Linked DNA regions of Homo sapiens. The protein of the gene in region 1 purifies or fractionates together with the protein of each later gene. This does not show direct contact. Each region holds a gene or a part of one and is shown on either strand. Other genes may lie near its edges. The genes, in order: HMGCLL1 and VPS13C.

Region 1 (7,314 bases):
GACTTTTGCTACTTTATACTTTTTTGGGTATTTTTTCAAAACCTGCTTTTCTTGAAATGCTGACCAGTCCTGGTTAACTGTTTGCTGCCCCAGGGTACAAAGTTTCTCTAAAGTTAAAGCTGACCCATACCCCGGATTGATAAAGGGTGAGATAGATAAGAAACTCTACTTTAGGGATTTGAGAATCACTGGATAAGAGGAGATTCTAGGACAGAGATGATTCTGGTTTGATTAATTTAGGGAGAAGCTTAGACATTAGTCATTTGAAAAGGGCTCCAGGTGATTCCAATGGGTTGACAGGATTGAGAATAATGGAAATTTCTGACTCCTAAACTGATACATTCAGATCCACTGAATAGATCAGTTTTAACCTATAAGTAAAGAAATGCCCCTGCCTGTTTATATCATGGCAGACTCCCAGAGACGGGTCAACATCTTAATATTTGTCTTTTCCAAGTACTGAACAATGCCACAAATTTCACTTCTAAAGTATAATTCCCCATTCTTACTGCTTTGATTCATAGTAAATGAAAATTGTCCTAAAGGTACCAGTATTTTACTGCTGAATATGACTAAGCTTGTCAGATCATTATGTGAGAAATGTTGTGGTAATGGAAAGAAAGCAATAGAGACCTTCTCATGTTGGAGAGTATAAGAAGAAGAAATGGAGGTAGAGAAACAGTCTATCCTTTGTAAACTTTCCTTAGGTCCCAAAGAATTCTAAGGCTTTTTAAGGACTGTAGTTCTTCCTTTGTGAGATTTTGTAAGTATCCTTTTCAGTCTTGCAAAGGAAACTCTAGGCAAGTGGTTGAAAACCCACAGTCCCTTTGGCATGCCTAAAGGACACAGGAGCCAAGTGAGAGAGCTCCCAATGGCCAAATGTTGAACAGTTTGAGCAACAAAAGACATAAATTGGTATTACGTTATAACCCAAAGTGCAAAATAATTACCTATAATTAGCTATGAGTCCTCCCTAATATAAATACATGTTAGAATAAGTAAATAAATGAGAATGGACAAATTTTCCATACAGAAGAATTCAAAATTTTTGTGTAGATACTCCCCATTCTTTAAGTGTGAGCTACGCATAGTGACATTTTTCCAAAACGTACAATACAGAAAGACTGTGGGGAGACTTTATAGTGCAGATACCTGGCAGACACCACCTCAGCCAGACAAGAAAAGTTAATACCAGCCGTCATAATTTATATTGATATTATATATCCTTGATATAATGCTTTCAGGATGACACTTTACCTCTGTGGTCTTCTCCCAAAACTCTATAACTCCAGTCTTAACAGGAGAAAAACTTAGACAAACCCAAGTTGAAGGACAATGTACAAAATACATGACGAGCACTTTGGGAGGCTGAGGAGGGGGGATCACTTGAGGTTAGGAGTTTGAGGCCAGCCTGGCCAACATAGTGAAACCCTGTCTCTACTAAAAACACAAAAATTAGCCAGGTGTGATTGTGCGCACCTATAATCCCAGCTACTCAGGAGGCTGAGGCAAGAGAATCGCTTGAACCCAGGAAGCAGAGGTTGCAGTGGGCCGAGATAACACCACTGCACTCCAGCCTGGCTAACCGAGCAAGACTCCATCTCAAAAAAACAAAATAAAACAAAACAAAAACATGACTTATACTACTCAAAATAGTTCGGAGAAACTGTCACAGCCCATAGGAGGCTAAGGATACCTGACTACTAATGTGGTATACTGGTGAGCTCCCAGAACAGATAAAAGACACCAGTTTAAAAATGTCTTTAGAAATGTCATTTTAAAAGTCTAAAGAAATCTAAATATTGCATGGATTTTAATAAAAACTTGCCAACATGTGTTCTTTAGTTATGACAAATATACCATAATAAGATCTGACAAAGAAGCCAAACTTCAGTCAGATTTCTAAAACTTCTCCTAAGCCCACCTCTTCATTTCCTTGTAAAATCCAGTTTTAGCAATTCCTACTAAATTAGCTTAACAAGAACCCCTATAGTCAATATCCAAATGCCCGATCTGATTAGGTCTCTCCTCCTCTACCAACCCGAAGGTCATGTCTGATCACCCTATCCTGTCTTCTGCAAAAATCCTGGTAGGTCAGTTTAGCCAGAATTCCTTTCACTCCTGATGTTTTCTCCTAGTAATTTTTAATCCACTGACCCCCACCCCACTCCTTGGCTATAAATTCTCACTTGCCCATGCTGTATTTGGATTTCAGCACAGTCTCTCTCTCCTGCATTGCATGTGGTCCCTGTACCTACTGCAATGTTCCTAAATAAATTCATCCTTGCTGTGCTTTAATAAGTATCATTGAATAATGTTTTCTGTAACAGATGTTAACCATAGAGAAAACTGAGTGTGCAATATATAGGAATTCTGTTTTATCTTCACAAATTTTGTGAAAATCAAAAACTATTTTAAAATTAAAAGTTTATCAAAAAAGTAAAGAAGGGAAGGAAGGCAGGAAGGAAGGGAGAAAGAGATTCCCACATGAGCAGCAGCTGTCAGAATCTTGTCAAAATTTAAAATTCTCAAGTCGCAGCCCAGACCTTCTGAGTCAAAAACTCAGGGAATGTAGCAGTAACCTGTGATTGAGAAACATGATATAGTTGGTTGGAAAGAGCTCTGCTTCCAGGTGCTTCTCATTTTAAATGTGATCATGTTACTTTTTCTTTAATGCCCAAGAGTGAAGAATCGGATTAGGCTTTACTGTATCTTCTGATTACCGAATTGTTACCTTTCACAGAGGAATGGCATGCCTGCCTCTGTTCTTCTCATATTATTAACATTTGAACTCCGGGGCCCTTCTCAGACCCTGTTGTACTCATGTCTTCCATAACTTCTCCGGTACACAGAGAGCTCTTCCACCTCTGATATCCCCAAGTGCATAATCATGTACCAAATCTCATGTTTCCAGAGGCTATAAATCAAAGCAGAGTGTAGATTCCCTGGAGACAGAAGATTTCACCTACCAGATAGTGACCTTGGGTAAATTGTTTATTCCCTCTGTACCTGAGTTTTCTTTCTGAGAACTGGGGATGATACAAGAGTATCTACTTCATGGATTTTGGGGAGAATTGTGAATTAATACACATAATTTGTTAATAACAGCATCCAGCACTTAGTGAGGAACCAATAATGTAAGCTGGCGTTACTGCTGGTGGCAAGTGTTTTGTCTCTTAAATATTTCTTCCTTCTCCCAAAGTAGTGGAGTTTTGTGTGCAAAACAATGAATGTCTCAATAAAGATTTGGTGAGTTGAATGGGTAAAGTGAGCCCACAAAACCCTATTTCAAACCCAGTGACTTCTCTCTCCCCTGCCCTCACATACCAGTCATCTAAGGCATTTTGATGTTGAAGTAGAATGTTGAAAATATTTCATGTTGCTTATAAAATGCTTTTAGAATAAAGTTAGAGAATTGGATAATATGTGAAAATCTGGAGTAAATTAACCTTACTCTAAGCTTCACCACCTACAGTTGAGCTGTTACCAACGAACAACACCATTTTACTTTTGATCAAAGATTATTCTAGCTCCAGAGAGCCTTAGCAGAATTTCTGTTAGCCTCAAAGACGAGATTAGACATAAAAGAAATAAGCACCCTGGGGACCATTCTAGAGGCCACTGGGTAAGTGAATATATTTGAATAACCAGTTCAGATTTTGCTTATTTGCAGTTTACCATAGGTTAAATAGAAATGCAACAATTTACATGCCATAAACACACAAGCTTTAGGTGGTTTGGTTTGTTTTCCAGATGGGAATTAATGTGGTGGACTCCGCAGTATCCGGATTAGGTGGCTGCCCTTATGCAAAAGGTGCTTCTGGGAATGTAGCCACTGAGGATTTGATATATATGCTTAATGGCCTGGGGCTCAATACAGTAAGTTACTTTAACGTATTTTAATATTCATGCATTCCTTGCAGCTCCAAATTGCAAAGCTTCTAAGATGTGGGAAGCAATTTTGAGGTCAAAGTTTTACTACACTTTTGCTATTTGCTAAAATGCACAGTGGGAAAATGCAATAAAAATTCTTTTGGGGTCTTTATAAAGTAACTCATTGCTATAGCTCAATCACCAATAATGCTACCATTTCACATTTTTATAGTGCTTCATGACCTCTAAAGAACTTTTTCATGTATTATCTGATTTGATTTTATACACTTTGTGAGTTGGAGCCTGTGTCTTTGCTGTTACGATTGTTGAGTTTTGCAGTTTTGTTTTTTGTATGGATGTTTTTCTTGGAGAAAATGGAGATCTTGATTGTCTCAGTGACAACTGTAGCTTCTGGAAGAACTCCCAGGGCACTTTTTAAATGATCAGTGAAAGAGGGGAGCTTCATAACACTTAGCATATGAGACACTGGATGGCAAGAATAGTCTCTTTGCAAGTTGTACCGGAAAAGTCACGTGCTATGTAACCACATCCACCAAATTCAGCACCTTGTTTTGCCCTATGATTGTTAACACAACCTGTTAGTCTATAGAACCGATTTATTTAGGAAAAAAATAAAAATCACAGATGATTAGACATTTAGAATTTCTGAGATGTAAAATAATCATCTGTATTGTAAAATGAATTTTTTTACTCTCTGCTGCTCCTATTCCTCCTTTTTCCTCATTCTACTTACATTAATGCTCCGGCTGCATTAAACTTGCTTCTAGTCTACAGTTCTGTACCATTTTATTCCTCACTTCTACTCCTTGCTCAGGTTTTCACTACCATGTGAAATGGCCTTATGCCTCGTATTCCATTTGGCCTGGAAAGTAAGACACCACCATCCTAAAAATAAGCCGTCTGGCATCTCCCTGCCTATCCCCCAGGTCAAACTGTTAGGTCCCATTCCTTAGTGTTTTCATGTTTTCCTCTGAACTTACCACAAGGTTATATAATTATCTTGTTTATGTGTCTATCTTCCCATGCAACCACAGAGCAATTATGACAGCTTATTCATACTTTATACTTGGTGCCTGTGGCATAAAGATGCTCCATAAATATTTATTGAAAGACTGATTTCACTTGGCACTAAACACCAACAGCTGTTGCCCATAAACACCAAAAGCTATTGCCTATTTTCTCTGGTTAGAAATAAATGTTATTTCATTTACATCGTATCTTAATCATTTATATCAGAAGCTAATGACATAAATGAGGGTAAATAGCTCCTTTCTTAGAAATTTAGATGACTGAATCGAACTCCATAGCTGATAGCTGATGCTTAATATATGCCAGTTATGTTCCATAACTCTGGAGTCCAAATGCAAATAAATCAAGTTTATTCCTAAAAATTTCAACATCCAAGGGTTGCTACATTGAGTAGCTGCCACAATTCAACTAGTCACCCAAGGCAACAAACCAGGATTCTCTATAGAATTTAATCTCACTATGGATTCCATGTCCAATCAGTTACCAAGAGCTGCTAATCTGACTTTAAAATATTTTGGTTGTCCTTCCCTTACTACCTCTGCTATGACTACATTGATGCAGGTCTGCATCTCTTTCCTGGGTGTTCATCCTATATACTGGTCGCTGGCTCCAGACTTGCCTTTAAAATCTATCTTCCATGCTACCATCAAAGGGTTACACCTAACATATAAGTATGAATAGGCTCTACGTCTGCTTGAGCAAGGATCAGTGGATTCTAATTTCCTGAAAGGAAGCCTGTGCTCTATCACATAATCTGGCCTATTATTACCTTTTCCAGGGTTAATGGTATATTTTGCCTTTATCCATATACGCCATGGATATTTAAGATATCTTGGACTGCTCTTCTCTCTGCCTGCATACAGTGCCCCATATATCCTCCATCCTCTTTTATACATTTTGTATAAACCTCAGGTCAGGCTTTACCCTTCTTGGCACTTTTCCCTGACACATTCCTTTCTGCATTTTTTTTTCCTCAGTGGGTTGATGGCCTCATATCTCTGCCTCCGTAATAACCTGGGCATATCTCTATTTGTGGCTTTAACTATGGTACAGAATTTTCTGTTGTGAGTCCACATTGCTTGCTTGAACTTGAAGGCAGAAACCACATTCTACGTGAGGTTCTTGAAACTCCAGAATCTATCATAGTATACGAGACATATTTAAGCACCCGACAAATGATTTAAGAATACATGCAGTGTTGTTTCATAATGATATCTACTGGTTAAATAAAATGGTAGAGAAAAGCCAAAACAAAATTCTTCTTTGGTGCGATATCAACAAATTCTACTGTATAATTGTGACAAATGGACTTACTGAAAAGAGAAGAAAGACATTAATGACAAAAATCTTTCTGTCAACCCTTGCTGGATGTAATTTATAAGTGAAAGGCACCTGAAGTTAATTGTTTACAGAATTTAAGTATCATTGGATTAAGGATGTTAAACAGATACTCCACGTAAAGCCGTTACCACGACAAAACCAACTTTCTCAAACCAAAGCAAATGTTAGTATCCTGAAAACAACTTTGTAATAAAAAGACATCATGAAAATAATTTACAAGTATCACTTTACAAAATATTTTTAATTCTTAAAGAGATAAGTAATTAGCTATATCGAAATGTCTCCAATTTCTAAAATGATATTCATTGTTATGAAAAGCCCCTATGAGTTTTTATACTTGTCTATTTTATGAAAGTGACAAGTTTTCATAGATATTAAAAAGTACTTTATAATAGCAAGGAAAACTGAATATTTTCAATTTTAAGCCCACATTGTTTCTAGTCCATATTGAGGGGGAACATAGAAGCTTATGAAATGCCACATAAGGGCAAGTTTGTGCTTAATCCACTTAATGCTTTGCCTCCTCCGGTGACAACAAAAGTGCTGGGTGGAAACTTTGATAGTGACCCTTTCCTTACACTAAAGCCAAGAGCATGTCCTGAACTTGCCCTTTATACCCAGCTGCATATCTGTCATCCATGGATTTACCTGAGCTTTTGTTGATCCTATTTATACTTTCAGACAGTACAACCTCTCAGGCGAACAAGTTCCAGATGTGTACTAAATACCACTTCATTTTATTTCACTTGCAACTACCTCCTTCAATATCATACTAGTAATAGTATTTCTGGCCTTGGTTTAAAAAATATATATGTATATATATGCATACACCTTTTCTGTAATCCTTATGGCTTTTTCAAGTTTGTTTCTTTATATAGTAAAGAGGATAGTTTTTTTTCTAAGTCAGTTCTTATCTATAAACTGCTCCAAAACATTATTTTGATTGTCCTTCGCTGATGCTTTGTTGACTGCTTTTCTAGTTCCATTATTGTCCTTCCTAGACTCTAGATACCAGCCTGAATTATGATGTTTTTCAAGTGTGTCTACCTA
Region 2 (2,873 bases), on another chromosome or scaffold:
TCAGGGGCTCCAACAGGGAGAAAAAACAATCACTGGTCTTGTCTATAAGTCACTCTGCTTTATCTTGCTAAAGACAATTTTTCAAGCAATCCTTTAGTTTTAGTTTTCTGGAATAGCTAGTATTGGGTTTTCTAGTTTTTTCACCTTTTAGTTTTTACTCTAATTTTGTAACCATGTATATGCTAGCAGTCCACTTCTACGCCACCACCCAAATGGGTCAGACCCTTGAAGAAACGTCACTTCAAACTCAGAATGAAATTTTCATTAATATTAAAATTGTGAAGCAAAGGTCAATAGGCTTATATTTAATTAAAGCCTTACTGAAGAATAAGAAATGAGCTTAGAATGACTAGTGTTCTTTGAAAGGTTTTTTTATTTTTGTTTTTTTGGGGTTTTTTTTTTTTTTGAGACCGAGTCTTGCTCTGTCGCCCAGGCTGGAATGCAGTGGTGCGATCTTGGCTCACTGCAATCTCTGCCTCTCGGGTTCAAGCTGTTCTACTGCCTCAGCCTCCTGAGTAGCTGGGATTACAGGTGTGTGCCACCACGCCTGGGTAATTTTTTTTTTTTTTGTATTTTTAGTAGAGATGAGTTTCACCATGTTGGTCAGTCTAGTCTCGAACTCCTGACCTTGTGATCCGCATGCCTCAGCCTCCCAAAGTGCTGGGATTACAGGCATGAGCCACCACGGCCCGCCAAAAGGCTTTAACCCATGAACAAATGTTGGATCCTGACATTTTGTTTAAGAGTGATTTGTTCAATAATTGAACTGAGTTAACATTCTTGGTAAACCAGGTAATTGAATGAAGAAAGGTCACTAAAGGGAGAAATGACATGTTTTCTATTTTCTTTTCATGAAAACACTGTTTTTCCCCCTAATAAAGCATATTTTACTTTGGTGCTTATTTTTCCTCCTTGCAGTCTAATAAAAAAATCTGGACAATCAAACCTTAAAATAGCTACACTCTGCCCTCTGTAATGTAGCATTCATAAAAATTTGGAAGTATTTACATCCTCTTTCAAGATGAGCTTATATGACACAATTATTATTTGCTGATACATGAAAATACTGCACTTTAAGTTTCTCAAGACTCTGAAATATGTAAAATTCAATATTTTTATATTCCCAGAAATTGTTTCTTACAGGTTGAAAGTCTTTTAAGGGCATCACAAATTAACATTTACTCCTAATGCACGCCTAGAATGTATTTTAAATACTTACTAAGAAGAATGAAAATTCTTTGGTTGTTTTATATATAAATAAGGCATATATAATGACACTGTGTTCTGTGAGGGAGCAGGCCCTGTGAGAATCAATTCAGGACAGTATTTTTTTTTGTCCTTTCTCCATCCTTGATCAGAGATAAACTATTAAAACTTTAAAAAATACTCAAAAATATGTAAGTTTTTTGGTTGAACCTTTAGATTTGCTCATAATGTTTAACATAACAACATTTATTTCAAATCACTGAATTCATGGAGATGTGGACACGCTTGGTTTGCTCTATTTTTGTTTATGTGTGATAGTGGTTCTGTCATCATCATTCATGTTTTTTAAGGCCTGGTCATAAAACTTTAAATTTTACTAGTGTTACTTAATGTATATTCTAAAAAGAGAATGCAGTAACTAATGCCCTAAATGTTTGATCTCTGTTTGTCATTACTTTTTCAAAATTATTTTTTTCTGTAAAGTATAATATATAAAACTTCTTGCTTAAATTGAATTTCTATATTAGTGGTTAATTGCAGTTTATTAAAGGGATCATTATCAGTAATTTCATAGCAACTGTTCTAGTGTTTTGTGTTTTTAAAACAGAATTAGGAATTTGAGATATCTGATTATATTTTTCATATGAATCACAGCTGTTGACAATGTCCCATATATTTAAGAAATTATATCATACTGATACTATTTGTAACATTTTGATTTGATTTAATCTCCAGGGACAGAAATAATTCATTGGTAAAGTGTAATAATGCGTTTTTTAAAAATGCTTTGAGAGGTAATTACTTGCATATGAGAGAAATAAAACATTTGGCACATTGTTTACAGGTGTGAAAACTTTGTGGGTTTGTGTTATTCAAGTAACATTTGCTTTACTTTTTGTCTTTCCCTTTTCCTCTTCCAATCCCAAAATAGTGAGAAGTTATATTGATAGTTATGGAGGACTTTACAAGATACTAGTCAGAAAAGCTTTTTCTCAGGGGTACTGAGCCCCTTTATCACACTAGAGATCTGTGGCAGAGACCTCCAATACTGGGGGATTACAGAGAATGCGGTTGACCTAGGGGCCCAGCTGCACTTTGAAATCCATTGCTGTATTTGCATTGAGCCCATGCCTTCCGTGGTTTCTCTCAGCGACTGGCTGAGTATGAAGTTATACTAAGACATACTTAGTCTGGAAATTCTAGGAGACACAGAACTCCTCTGACAGCCGACTTTGGCTTGAAGACTCTTCAGTGGCCTTGCAGAACCTTTCTTAGACTGCATGGCAGTCTGGGATGTTCTACCATACCGCTGTCTTTCTCTTCTCCTCCCTCTTCCACATGGGGCTCAGACTACCAGTTTGGAAGGCTCACCCAGTGCTGGATTATCTGGTAGGAAGAATAAGTTCATGCTGAGGGCTGTAGCAAAGCAGGGGCATTAAAAAAGGAAAAAAAAAAAAAAGGAAGAAGACTGTACCCAAGCTTCGTAAGAAAAATGCCATCCAGGGTGGACTTACTTCCATGTGTTTTATGATTTAGTATTGTTTTTATTTTGAATTATGCATGAAGGAGGACACTATCATCTTTTTGGTGCTTTGAGTTTCTAAGTATGTTGATCTGGTGCTGCCTGGATATCTGTTTTTAACGAAGTTCTGTGTGTGTTTCTAATG

The links.
Region 2: the proteins of HMGCLL1 (region 1) and VPS13C purify together in Homo sapiens (affinity purification with mass spectrometry; 2 studies listed by BioGRID and IntAct, with this or other methods). This does not show direct contact.

The regions. Positions count from the first base shown.
Region 1 is NC_000006.12:55,435,999-55,443,312, reverse strand, and holds part of HMGCLL1 (3-hydroxymethyl-3-methylglutaryl-CoA lyase, cytoplasmic), read left to right. Parts: intron 1-3,753; coding exon 3,754-3,879; intron 3,880-7,314. UniProt on the Homo sapiens protein: Non-mitochondrial 3-hydroxy-3-methylglutaryl-CoA lyase that catalyzes a cation-dependent cleavage of (S)-3-hydroxy-3-methylglutaryl-CoA into acetyl-CoA and acetoacetate, a key step in ketogenesis, the products of which support energy production in nonhepatic animal tissues.
Region 2 is NC_000015.10:61,851,575-61,854,447, reverse strand, and holds the end of VPS13C (intermembrane lipid transfer protein VPS13C), read left to right. Parts: 3' UTR 1-2,059; downstream 2,060-2,873. UniProt on the Homo sapiens protein: Mediates the transfer of lipids between membranes at organelle contact sites. Necessary for proper mitochondrial function and maintenance of mitochondrial transmembrane potential.